3 linked regions of the Homo sapiens genome follow. The protein of the gene in region 1 purifies or fractionates together with the protein of each later gene. This does not show direct contact. Each region holds a gene or a part of one and is shown in the gene's direction. Other genes may lie near its edges. The genes, in order: MAPK10, MTHFD1L and GCH1.

Region 1 (4,303 bases):
TAAAATAGTTTGCAGTATTTTGTAGGAAGGATGGCTGTGTACTCATGTGCAGGGAAAATTAAACTGCTGCAAGAGTTTGGCAAAACCGCCACCACTTTACTATTAATATGTCTTTACTATTTTTATATGTGTTTTGTGGGTCAGCGTGTTCAATTTTAAATAGGAATACACTAGCCTTACAACGGAATTTCTTCTTGTGGAATAAAAACTGATAATAACCTTTCATCTTCAAGAATCTGATGACTGAGTTTTGTAGGAATGTACCCAACAGTTGGACCAGAGCCTGGCCAGTTCCCACCAATTGGAGTAAGCTATTTAATTGAGGGTTAAGAAGCTCGATAGTTTTTTCAATCTGTTATCAGAAAAATATTATCTAAAGACACTGATAGCAGCTGACTGGTAAAACTGAAAGTTGGCCTTAGTAAATGGAACTAGTAAAAAATAGATAAAAATATGTAAAACCTTTTATGTCCTGTCAAGGAAAAAAAAATAAGCAAACTTGATTTGTTTTAAAATTGTAAATATTCATTGCAAAACCTAAATTATACAAAATCTATTTCGATTTGAATCTCTTAACATATGAAAAGCCACATCTTAAGTGCATTATGCTCTGTAAGGCATGTTATTAGCCAGCTTTGCTGAAAAATGTATTCTTCTACAGCTCAGAAAGAGGAGTAAAATTGCTCTAGAAATTTTTGATCTCAGCCACTTTGCATCCAAAGAGGAACCCAACTCCCCACTCACAATCCCCCACACACATTTTAATTATAAGAGTTCAACATTTTCCACAGATATCATTAAGCCAAGCAAGGAAACTCCTCTCTGTAAAAACAACAAAAAAGTTGCAATGTAAATAGTTATTTTAGCTATTTTCTTTGTGATTAGAGGATAAGATTTTGTTATTTCTTTTGGTACTTAGTCCTTTAACTATCTGAAAATGGCTCACTTTGACCTGTTTCTTTGGTCAGCCAAACTGAAGTGAGGGGCCTCTGTTTATATATAGAATCTTGTATATGTAACTTTACTTATGTGGGACCAATGGCCAGTATATTCTAATGGACACAAATCTCCCAATCCTTATGTAGGATTATCTGTTCACCTTGCCATGTCCATCTTGCAATGAGACCTAACTTGCACCTGCCTGTTTTTCTGCATGATTGGACTCCAAAGACTATTACCAATGATGAGAATTGTCTTGTGTCAGTGTTTATAAAATGGACTTAAAGCACACACACATGCATACCCACATTCACATGCACCCTTACAGTTCTAGATCAACCCTGGAAGGCAAAACCATGTACGTCCAGTTTCTTTGCAAGGTCTGAGCAGTGAGAACTAAATTCAGTCAGTCTAATGGGTAAAATGCAACCTCAGTGATGCTTAATAAGGATTTGAAATCGTTCAAGTCATTTCTGTGTTCTTTCTCACACCCTTTCCTTTCTATTTTGTCTTCTTTTATTTTCAAAATGTCTGTGGAACAAGAGGATGAATCGGGGGAGAACTTCTGCTTCTTTTGACTCTTTTTAGGTAATATGGAGTCAATATATTATGATTTCTGTTTCTTATGGATTATTAAAATCAGAGGAAATCTGCTTCTCTCAACATAAAACCAAATCCAAACCCAGACATTGTTGGAGTTTGCCTGTTGACAATGGTTATGATGCTGCTCGTTGTCTTGAGTTGCATGTAACGACAGTAGCTCTGAAGGGTGTCATGATTTCATTTTGGCAACTGGTAAAAGAAACTTGTAGTGTGGTCTGATTGTGCCAGGGAATAAATAAGAAATAAGGAATGACCTACTTTCTCACCTTGGGTCAAGAGTGTGTGATATGAATGTGACCATGTAGAAATCTGTGTTTTCATTTGACACTGGTTTCTTCTAAAACTGACCTTCATTTCTGTCTGTAGATACTAGTTGTATATCTGCAATTCAGTAATTTCTTTTTAAGGTATAAAATCAATGAAGAAAAAAAAGATCATCTTTTGGGGGGGCATTAGGTAAGTAGAGCAGGGTTAAATTTCCCAGATTAATTATCAGATTTCTATTCATTTTAACTATTTTCCAAGAGAAAAGGTAAAAGCCTTTGTTTAGCTACATGATATCCAACTTTACTATCTCAAACTCCTTGGAGAATTAAAAATATATATGATTTTGTGGCTGGATGAAGAGGTCACTGCACTTGCATTAGTTTACTTTGCAGTGTTTGAACAGTTGAGGAGTGGCTCTTCTATTTCTGTAAATAATGTTTTATTTAACCAATTAACTATTAGAAAGCCTGGAAGATAAACATACACATTATTTTGAGTTATCACATTTATCGTTTTACCTAGTTCCTGTTGGAATATAGAAAGCAACAGCTTTTTGTTATCTCTGGAACAGCTTCTATCCTAGTTTAAATCACAGATCCTTACTCTCTTTAAAAAAGGTCAAGCATAGGTACCTAAAAATACCCACAATAATAAGAAGGGAAATTGCATTCCACAAGATGATTGCTCTTAAAGAGTCAGAAGGAGTTATTGGTGCATTCCTGATACCATAAATGGTTACCAAACATTTGGTAATTTTGACCAAGTTCACAGTAAGGAGAAAAAAGGGTGTTGGACTTGCTTTTCTTGAAGATTACTTATGGAGCAACCAACCTAGAAGGATGAATCTACTTGCCAATAACAACACTGGATCACAGCCAAGGCAGAGGTTTTTGACATTCCCAATTCATCATGGTGGTGTTTTGTATTTGTAACATGTCTTTTCTCCACAGATGTTGAAAGGCATGCTTGGATGACACATGCTAATAGTGAAACACGCTGAAAGTCCTGCCATCACAGATCACTTTATGTTGGGAGCCACTCTATGTGGCAAGTCATCTGTCCCAGTTCCAGACTAAATTTCAACTGTTCAACCATTTACATCATTGTAGTCTGTTTAAGGCACTAAAAATGTGCTGTAGAAATTTATATTTCTCAGACACATGAAATGTGGTGACACATCCAGCAACAAGTCAAACACTCCTTTGAAATTTTCTACCTTATGTCAAATATTTCTTACTTTTAAAGACATTCCTATCCTGGTGTAAAATCCAACATAAAATAATTTGAGGGAATTTAAGGAATTCAAATTTCACTCCGTGGGGTACGTGGCTTTATTTCTTAATCACTGAACTTCTAGTAATGTTCTTCACCTGATCTTGTCTGCGATGTTTAACCAACAGTCCAGATCATTTGCAACTCAAAAGCAGGTACAAAATGTTATCCATCTTAAAAACCCCTCACATATTCCCTAGAAGACTGTCCCACACATAATTCGCCTTCCATTAACACTTGTGAACCCATCCTGGTGAAAATATTGCCTATGAACAATTATACCAAAAAATCAATTTTTATAATGCAAATAATATTTTACACAGACCAAGAGAATTCATAATATTAAAGTATTTCTTTTATAAAAGGAAGGTTTTCAGAAAGCAATGGCCTATTCCTTCATGTTAATACATTGCGAACTTGGATTTGGTGTAAATCAAGCCCTGAGAATATTGCTCTGAATTTCTAGCTTAATTTCTGAGCAACATTCTAAAGCAGTTCATTAATTTACTCCAAAAACATTTCTTGGACACTTCGGTGTAGGAGATATATATTGCATGGTCCTTAACCTAAAAAATTCAGAGTTAATAAATCTTTGTTTAAAAAAACTAAAGCAAATATTTTTATTTCATTTATTTGCTATCTTTTTACAAAATGTATTTAAATTAGTGGTGTGACTTGCACGAGTCCATTTTTATTATTTGCTTAAAGCGATGAAACAAGGAGTCTGCTTCTTTCAATGTTCTTATTTTGTCTAATTATATAAGTATACTTCATGAATCAGCATGAGAATTTTGAATATTTTCCATTACAAGAGATGAAACCACTTTTAAAAATTATTTAAAATTTAAAATTCATTTTAAAAATGCATGGATGTTCTTTTCCGCATTGCAGAAAGTTTGCTTTGATGTATGGTTCCTCTGAGAGCTATTGGACCTAGATGCTGACTGAGCATGGGGCTTATACTTTTGGCATCACAATCTCCAAATTAGCAAATGATATCACAATGGGTACTGAAGCTTCTTTGCAGTGACATTCTTACATGAAGCCAAATCTTCGGAGTTTGTTCAGTCTATGGGTGACTGTTGGAACCCTAAAATAACTTAAAGTAGAATTTGGTCATTTATTGTTTTTTTTTATTAAAAGGTCCAACTGAGAACATCCCTGAACATCTGAACCAGAAATTTGACATAGAGCTCTAAATATTCACTCATTCATTCATGCA
Region 2 (3,654 bases), on another chromosome or scaffold:
GTTTCCAACAAGGAGCAAAACAACAACAAACTATAACAGATGCATTTTCATGAATCCACTTTTTATATAAAGCTTCCTTTGTTGGGTCTCATTTTCACAAAACTAATTTTTATTTTGTTTTTTTGTTTTCTCTTTAGATTATAGATGAAATCTTAAAGATCAATGAAGATACCAGAGTACATGGCCTTGCCCTTCAGATCTCTGAGAACTTGTTTAGCAACAAAGTCCTCAATGCCTTGAAACCAGAAAAAGATGTGGATGGGTAAGAAAATAAAATCAAATAATCAACCTTTATGGCTAAATCACTTTTTCTATTGTGCCTGCTTTTATTTTTCTAAATTTCTTCTATTTATTTCAACTGTGTCAGTAATTGGATAAAAAAATCATTTTAAATATTTCAGGAGTCTATAGGATTTTTTTTTTTTTGAGATGGAGTCTCGCTCTGTTGCCCAGGCTAGAGTGCAGTGGCGTGATCTTGGCTCACCACAACCTCCATCTCCTGGGTTCAAGCGATTTTCCTGCCTCAGCCTCCTGAGTAGCTGGGATTACAGGCATGCGCTACCATGCCTGGCTAATTTTTGTATTTTTAGTAGAGACGGGGTTTTACCATGTTGGCCAGGATGGTGTCTATCTCCTGACCTTGTGATCCACTCACCTCAGCCTCCCAAAATGTTGGGATTACAGGCGTGAGCCACCGTGTCTGGCCATCTGTAGCCTTTTAAAATTCTGCATGCAAAAGTTACATATTTTGGAAAATACATTAGCCCTTTTATAGTGCTTCAATGCCATATGATCTTACACCATCAGATTCATTTAATAAATTCCGGTCTGACTTATACAATCTTTAGCCAGCTCTATTCTTCTAATAGTTTTTTCCTTGGTAATTCTACCAGACCAGAGAAGAAAACTTAGAAACCTGATTCCCCAGCAGTACCATATTCTGTCTTAGTCCCAGGCCAGTTGAGAAAAGCAAAATAAATACTTTTCTTAATGACACAAGGTTTTATTTGAAATTTGGAGGGGAACATCATAACTATTGGGTGCTGTAATGTTGGCCTGTGATTCATGTCATGGAGTGACATAAGCTTCATAGAACAAAGGATACCGGCCGTCTCCAGTGGGGGATAAGCATGCTTCCTGGGGATTAAAACCCCATTTTCCTCCATGGAAATATAGGAAGTGTTTTGTACTGTGGCCAAAAAGAACACAATGTGTTAATGGTTATAGGTTGTAAGCAGATTTATAAAGTTAGATTCCAGATCCGGTAGACCCTGCAGGGGCTGGATGGGGAGGCTACCACCTTCCTGAGACACCCAGCAATCTTCCATTCTAGCCTTTTATTGTGACTTGAGTAGACCCAAACACAGGCTGAAAAGGTGTCATGAACACCTCCAGTCCTGGCTGGGCACAGTGGCTCACACCTGTAATCCTAGCACTTTGGGAGGCCAAGGCAGGAGGATCTCTTGATCTCAGGAGGTCAAGACCAGCCTGGACAACATAGTGAGACCTCATCTCTATTTTTTTTTTTTTTTTTTGAGACAGAGTCTCACTCTGTTGCCCAGGCTGGAGTGCAGTGACACGATCTCGGCTCACTGCAAGCTCTGCCTCCTGGGTTCACACCATTCTCCTGCCTCAGCCTCCCGAGTAGCTGGGACTACAGGTGCCCACCACCACACCTGGCTAATTTTTGTACTTTTAGTAGAGACGAGGTTTCACCGTGTTAGCCAGGATGGTCTCGATCTCCTGACCTCGTGACCCGCCTGCCTCGGCCTCCCAAAGTGCTGGGATTACAGGAGTGAGCCACCGCGCCTGGCCCCTTGTCTCTATTTTTAAGTAAATAATTAAACATTTTTTTAAAAAACGACAATCTCCAGTCCTGTCGTAGACTAACTGTAAAAGGAGAAGAAGCACTAATCCATGAGAAAACTTTCAGAACTTGAAGGTCCTAGGGCATAGTTTCAAGTCTTTCATAAAAGGAGGGGAATTCATGCTGAGGCCCAGCCAGGAAAAACCAACCAAACAAAAACAACAGAGAGTAAAAGGAGAAATTACGAAAATGGTTCTAAATGTCTCCATTCTGTTACTGAGATTGACGTGCTCAGTTTAGGCTAGATAGCTGTGGAATGTTTTGTCCTAGATTTGAACAGGGAAAGGCACAGAACCCTTCAGAAGTGTGTGGTCACTCATTTTTTCCACTGCCCCCCACCCCGACTTCTCAAGGAGATAAATATCGAGGTCAAGTTGAAATCAGACCTGTGACCTGTGCCTCAATCCCAGGTCTTACTGGGTCACTCCAGATTTATAGGATTGGTTCTGGGTTTTGAGTGGACTGCAGGACCATGCTTCTGTGTAACTCTAGGGATGCTAGTCCATTGGGGTCCATTGAAAGGAGCTCCCTGGAGTTGCGAAGTGAAGCCCTGTATGGCTTTAGGCTGTGTCCTGGTATATTGGCAGAACCGGAACACCCAATGTCAGGGCCAGGGTGAAGTTTCCTAAGGTACTGCCTTAGAATTTTCTAAGACCTTTATTGAATGGCCTTTATTGCCTGCTTTCTCTTTAATTCATTTTTTATGGGTTTTTTTTTTTTTTTGAGATGGAGTCTCGCTCTGTTGCCCAGGCTGGAGTGCAGTGGCATGATCTCAACTCACTGCAACCTCTGCCTCCCAGGTTCAAGCGATCCTCCTGCCTCAGCCCCCTAGTAGCTGGGATTACAGGCACGTGCCATCACGCCCAGCTACCTTTTGTATTTTTAGTGGAGTTGAGGTTTCGCCATGTTGGCCAGGCTAGTCTCGAGCTCCTGACCTCATGTGATCCACCCGCCTCAGCCTCCCAAAATGCTGGGATTACAGGCGTGAGCCACCATGCCTGGTCCTCTTTAATTCATTTTTATGTATTCTGTCTATCAAACATTGACTTGGATGTTATTTGGGGTTAATATATGTACATTACACGTGAGTGATTTTTTTGGCTGGGCTTTGACTTAACCTACTTCTTTATTTTCTGATTCAGAGTAACAGACATAAACCTGGGGAAGCTGGTGCGAGGGGATGCCCATGAATGTTTTGTTTCACCTGTTGCCAAAGCTGTAATTGAACTTCTTGAAAAATCAGGTAGGATGCTCCTTGAGAAATGCCGCTGATTTCTATTTATTGGTATTTACATTATTTTTAATAAGGATTTGTTTGGGGAAGAATTAAAAATTTTTTTAAATTATTATTCTGATATCCTTTTAGGATGTTTCTAGAAGATTCTAATTGAACATAGAAGTGATATTTCACGTTGACTTTTTTTATTTTTCTCATCTTTTGGGAGATACAGATGAATACCTAGAAACTTTTTCTAGTAAGACCATCTTATAAATTAAAAGAGAAATTAGTAGAGATAAACGATTAGCCCTGTTTTAAACATGCTCAATTTCTCTCATGAAACAGTCAAAATAACCACAGTAAAATATGCTTCCAGTTTCAGCTTACTAAATCTATCAATATGTAGCCTTAGATAAGACTTACGTTGAAGACTTAAATGAGGCCAGGCACAGCGGCTCATGCCTATAATCTCAGTGCTAGGCGAGGCCAAGGCCAGAGGATCACTTCAGGCCAGGAGTTCGAGACCAGCCTGGGCAAACATACTGAGACCTTGTCTCTACAAAAAAAA
Region 3 (3,654 bases), on another chromosome or scaffold:
GGTGGGGTCTTGGACCAACCTGGATGGCAGGGAGAAGGAAGGATACTGGTGGGAGATAGGAGTGAGTGGGAACCCACATCTTTAGGTCCATAAACGCTTCTGCACAATCCCTTTTATTTCTTTAGAGAGCATGAGTCAAGTGGCCACTATATATTGTTTTTGGATAAGAACATACTTCTCTGAAGGTCACTTTTCTGTGCTTGTAAACAGGATACAGGACTTTATATCTTTTATATATCTGTATTCTATATATTAACTCCTGGTTAGTAATGTTGACTTAAGTGTTGTAAAATTTAAAATAAGTTGGTATTTTACATTCTTCAAAATCCATTTTTCCTCCCAGTGCCTCTTGTGTGGATTGATCCAAATTCCTGGCATTCTGGGGAATTTGTTCAGTTTTCCCTACGTTGCAGCGTCTCTCCATGACTGTCTCCTTGTGCACCTTTTCCCTACTTTCCAGTGTGTACCTTCCATGGGAGCATCTGTGGTCATCTGTGACCAGGGTGGTGTCAGGGTTGTATAGGTTTCCTAGTACTATTCCCTACTGGACTGTAGCTCATGGGCTAGGAGGGAGGGCTGGAGGAGACGCTATCATCTCTCCCAGGAACTGGCTGTCCTTTGAATCTACATCACAAGCTGATCCTTGGACCAGCTCAGACCAGCTCGTCTTGATCTATTTCTGTGCCATTTCAGTTTAGCTGTATCCTAGTTCTCTTAAATATTCAAGGTTTTATCTTGGTGAGTTCTCCTTTCTATATAAGGTACCTTTCCTGTATTTCCACTATTCTTTTATTCAGAACCTACACTTAGTTAAATTGGAGAGTCTGCTATTCTCTGAGGGCCTTGATCTTCATGCCCCTGTAACTGACCCTTCCAGGTATACATGGGAACAGCCTTTCAGACAGCATTATCTACCAAGGATTAAATGGGTATAACTTGTTCCATCAGTTGTTTTTTATGAGTTTTTGGGAATATGCAAGAGTCTTGACTCTGTCACATTTCCAGTTAAAGTAGGTTTTAGCTTGTCTGCCAAGACAGTTTTTATAAATCATGTTAACAGTTCAAAATTTTGGGAAGCATGCATATAATCCAGCGTGAGGAGATGGCATTGGAGATGGCTGACTGCTTCCCTGTGAGGGCTGAGGAAGCACAGACACTGGCAGTGAGTCATATCCCCACCTCAGCCATTTTCACTGGAAGATTATGTCTATTCGCTAAAGATAATGGGAGGCAATTAGATACTTTGTTTATACAAAAATGCATCTTAGACACTTCATACTGAAATGTAGCAATCACAAAAGGTTTTTCTTTTTGAATCACAAACCTCTCGGATTTATTAAATTAGACTGCTGTGGTGAACTAAGAATTTTAACAACTTCTAAGATGTGAAGAGGAACAAAAACATAAACTATTTACTATTCTCTCCTATATCATGGGTGAAAGGTGAGTTTATATCCCAAGTTTTAAAGTATATTATAGAAATGCTCTTCTCATCATTAAAAGGTACTATTTTAGATGTGTAGCTCACTCAAATTTTGATCCATTAATAATTTTTGTGCTTGGTTTGTTAATGAACACTTATATAGGACTTAGTTGTGTTCATTGCCAGAAAGAGCACTGTGAATAAAGAAGAAAAAATAACAAGGCACTTTTGACATATTATATGATTGGAATTTTGGACATGTCTAAGTGGAATAAAACAGTTAAGAAGTTACTGAGAAAGGGGGAGAAAAGCCAATCCTAATAGTTTCTTTTAAAAATGGATTATCTATAAACAATTTTTCTGACATGGGAAGAAAAATCAATATACATAACTTCACTATAGCAAGCAAAGCCTTCAGGTTGGTACTCGTACTAGATTCCCAGGGCTGCTATCACACAGTACCGCAAACTAGGTGGTTTAAATGACAGAAATAAACAGTCTCACAGTTCTAGAGACTAAAGTTCCAAAATCAAGGGGTCAGCAGAACCATACTCACTCCAGAACCTGTAGTGGGGGAGGCTGTCCTTGCCTCTTCCCAGCTTCTGGTGGTGGCCGTCAGTTGATGGTGTTCCTTGGTTTGAGCTGCGTCACTCCAGTCGCTGCCTCTGTCAGTGTCCATGTTTTTGTTTTGTCTTATAAGAATGTCAGTCATATGAGGCAGGGTCCACTTTACTCCAGTATGCCTGTGTTAGTTTAGCTAATTACATCTGCAACAACCCTACTTCCAAATAAAGTCACATGCTAAAGATACCTGGGGTTTAGGACTTCAACATATCTTTTTTGGCGAATGGCACAATTCAACTTGTATTAGTACTAAATACTATTATTAAAAAAATTAGTAGGAATTTTACTACAATTTCATTGATCATCAAGTACTACGCACTTCACTGAACGCTGGGAATGCAGGATGAGCAAAACCAGGTATAGTTCCTGCCTTCATGGAACTTACAGCCTAGCAGATAGAATCACATGAAATAGAAATGTGTTGTGAGATTGAGAAATGTGATGATAAACAAAAACACAGCTCAGTGAGAGCACTTGGCATAGGAACTTGACCAATGCCAGGAGATGGGAGCATGAATGGGTGAAGCGATGCTTAAGCCGACTGATGTTCTGAGTAACAAATACTGCTGATGGCTTACTTTGTGCTAAACAGTGAGTTTTTACATGTGTTACCTCATTTGATCCTCACAGTAGCACGATGGGGTAGGCAATATTATTCCCATTTTATACATAAGGAAATTGGGGCACAGAGAGAACTTTCCCAAGACTGTATCTTGAAAGTGGCGGAGCTGAGAGGATGATATAGAAAGAGAATCATTGTAATCTCTGGTAGGTGATTTAATTTTAATAATAATATTTTACTGATTTATTTGAATGATTTCTCCCTTCTTCCTCACCTATCCCCGCTTTTGTATTTTCTCTGCTATTTGCTTTGTCCACCTCTAGAAACCCTTCCATGCCTGGGCATTCCCCACCTGACTCATTTGCCAGTGATTTCTATATGAGGACTGTAATTTGAGTCTAGTATTTGGTTGAGTAGACTGCAGTGTTAAAACTCACCAGGAGAGGGCAACTGTCTAATCATTGGATCCCAGATTATGAATCCTGGATTATGTGAACAATTCTCAGTTCCAGGTTATGCAAACAAATATGTTTCCCATGGTTATAAATTTGCTAGAGTCTATAGTAATTAGATTGGGATATAATTTGTGTTGGGTTATGCAAAGAGTATCTGAACCAAGTTAAATCTGTTATACTCAAGGCCAAGAGGACATTCATTTACTAGAATTTTATTCTATTGGAGCCCATTAGTAGAAATATTTATTTATTTGGAGGCAGAGTCTTGCTCTGTCACCCAGGCTGGAGTGCGGTGGCATGATCTCAGCTCACTGAAACCTCTGCCGCCCAGGTTCAAGCAATTACCCTGCCTCGGCCTCCCGAGTAGCTGGGATTACAGGTGCCCACCACCATGCTCGGCTAATTTTTGTATTTTTAGCAGAGACAGGGTTTCACCATGTTAGCCAGGTTGGTCTCCAAGTCCTAACCTCAAGTGATTGGCCTGTCTCAACCTCCTAGAGTGCTGGGATTACAGGCATGAGCCACCGCACCCGGCCGGAAACATACAATGTTTGTCCTTCATGTCTGGCTTATTTTACTTTGCAAAATGT

Evidence for each region.
Region 2: the proteins of MAPK10 (region 1) and MTHFD1L purify together in Homo sapiens (affinity purification with mass spectrometry; one large-scale study listed by BioGRID and IntAct). This does not show direct contact.
Region 3: the proteins of MAPK10 (region 1) and GCH1 purify together in Homo sapiens (affinity purification with western blotting; one study listed by BioGRID). This does not show direct contact.

What each region holds. Positions count from the first base shown.
Region 1 is NC_000004.12:86,009,788-86,014,090, reverse strand, and holds the end of MAPK10 (mitogen-activated protein kinase 10), read left to right. Parts: 3' UTR 1-3,686; downstream 3,687-4,303. UniProt on the Homo sapiens protein: Serine/threonine-protein kinase involved in various processes such as neuronal proliferation, differentiation, migration and programmed cell death.
Region 2 is NC_000006.12:150,882,625-150,886,278, forward strand, and holds part of MTHFD1L (monofunctional C1-tetrahydrofolate synthase, mitochondrial isoform 2 precursor), read left to right. Parts: intron 1-137; coding exon 138-262; intron 263-3,009; coding exon 3,010-3,110; intron 3,111-3,654. UniProt on the Homo sapiens protein: May provide the missing metabolic reaction required to link the mitochondria and the cytoplasm in the mammalian model of one-carbon folate metabolism complementing thus the enzymatic activities of MTHFD2.
Region 3 is NC_000014.9:54,892,743-54,896,396, reverse strand, and holds part of GCH1 (GTP cyclohydrolase 1), read left to right. Parts: intron 1-3,654. UniProt on the Homo sapiens protein: Positively regulates nitric oxide synthesis in umbilical vein endothelial cells (HUVECs). May be involved in dopamine synthesis. May modify pain sensitivity and persistence.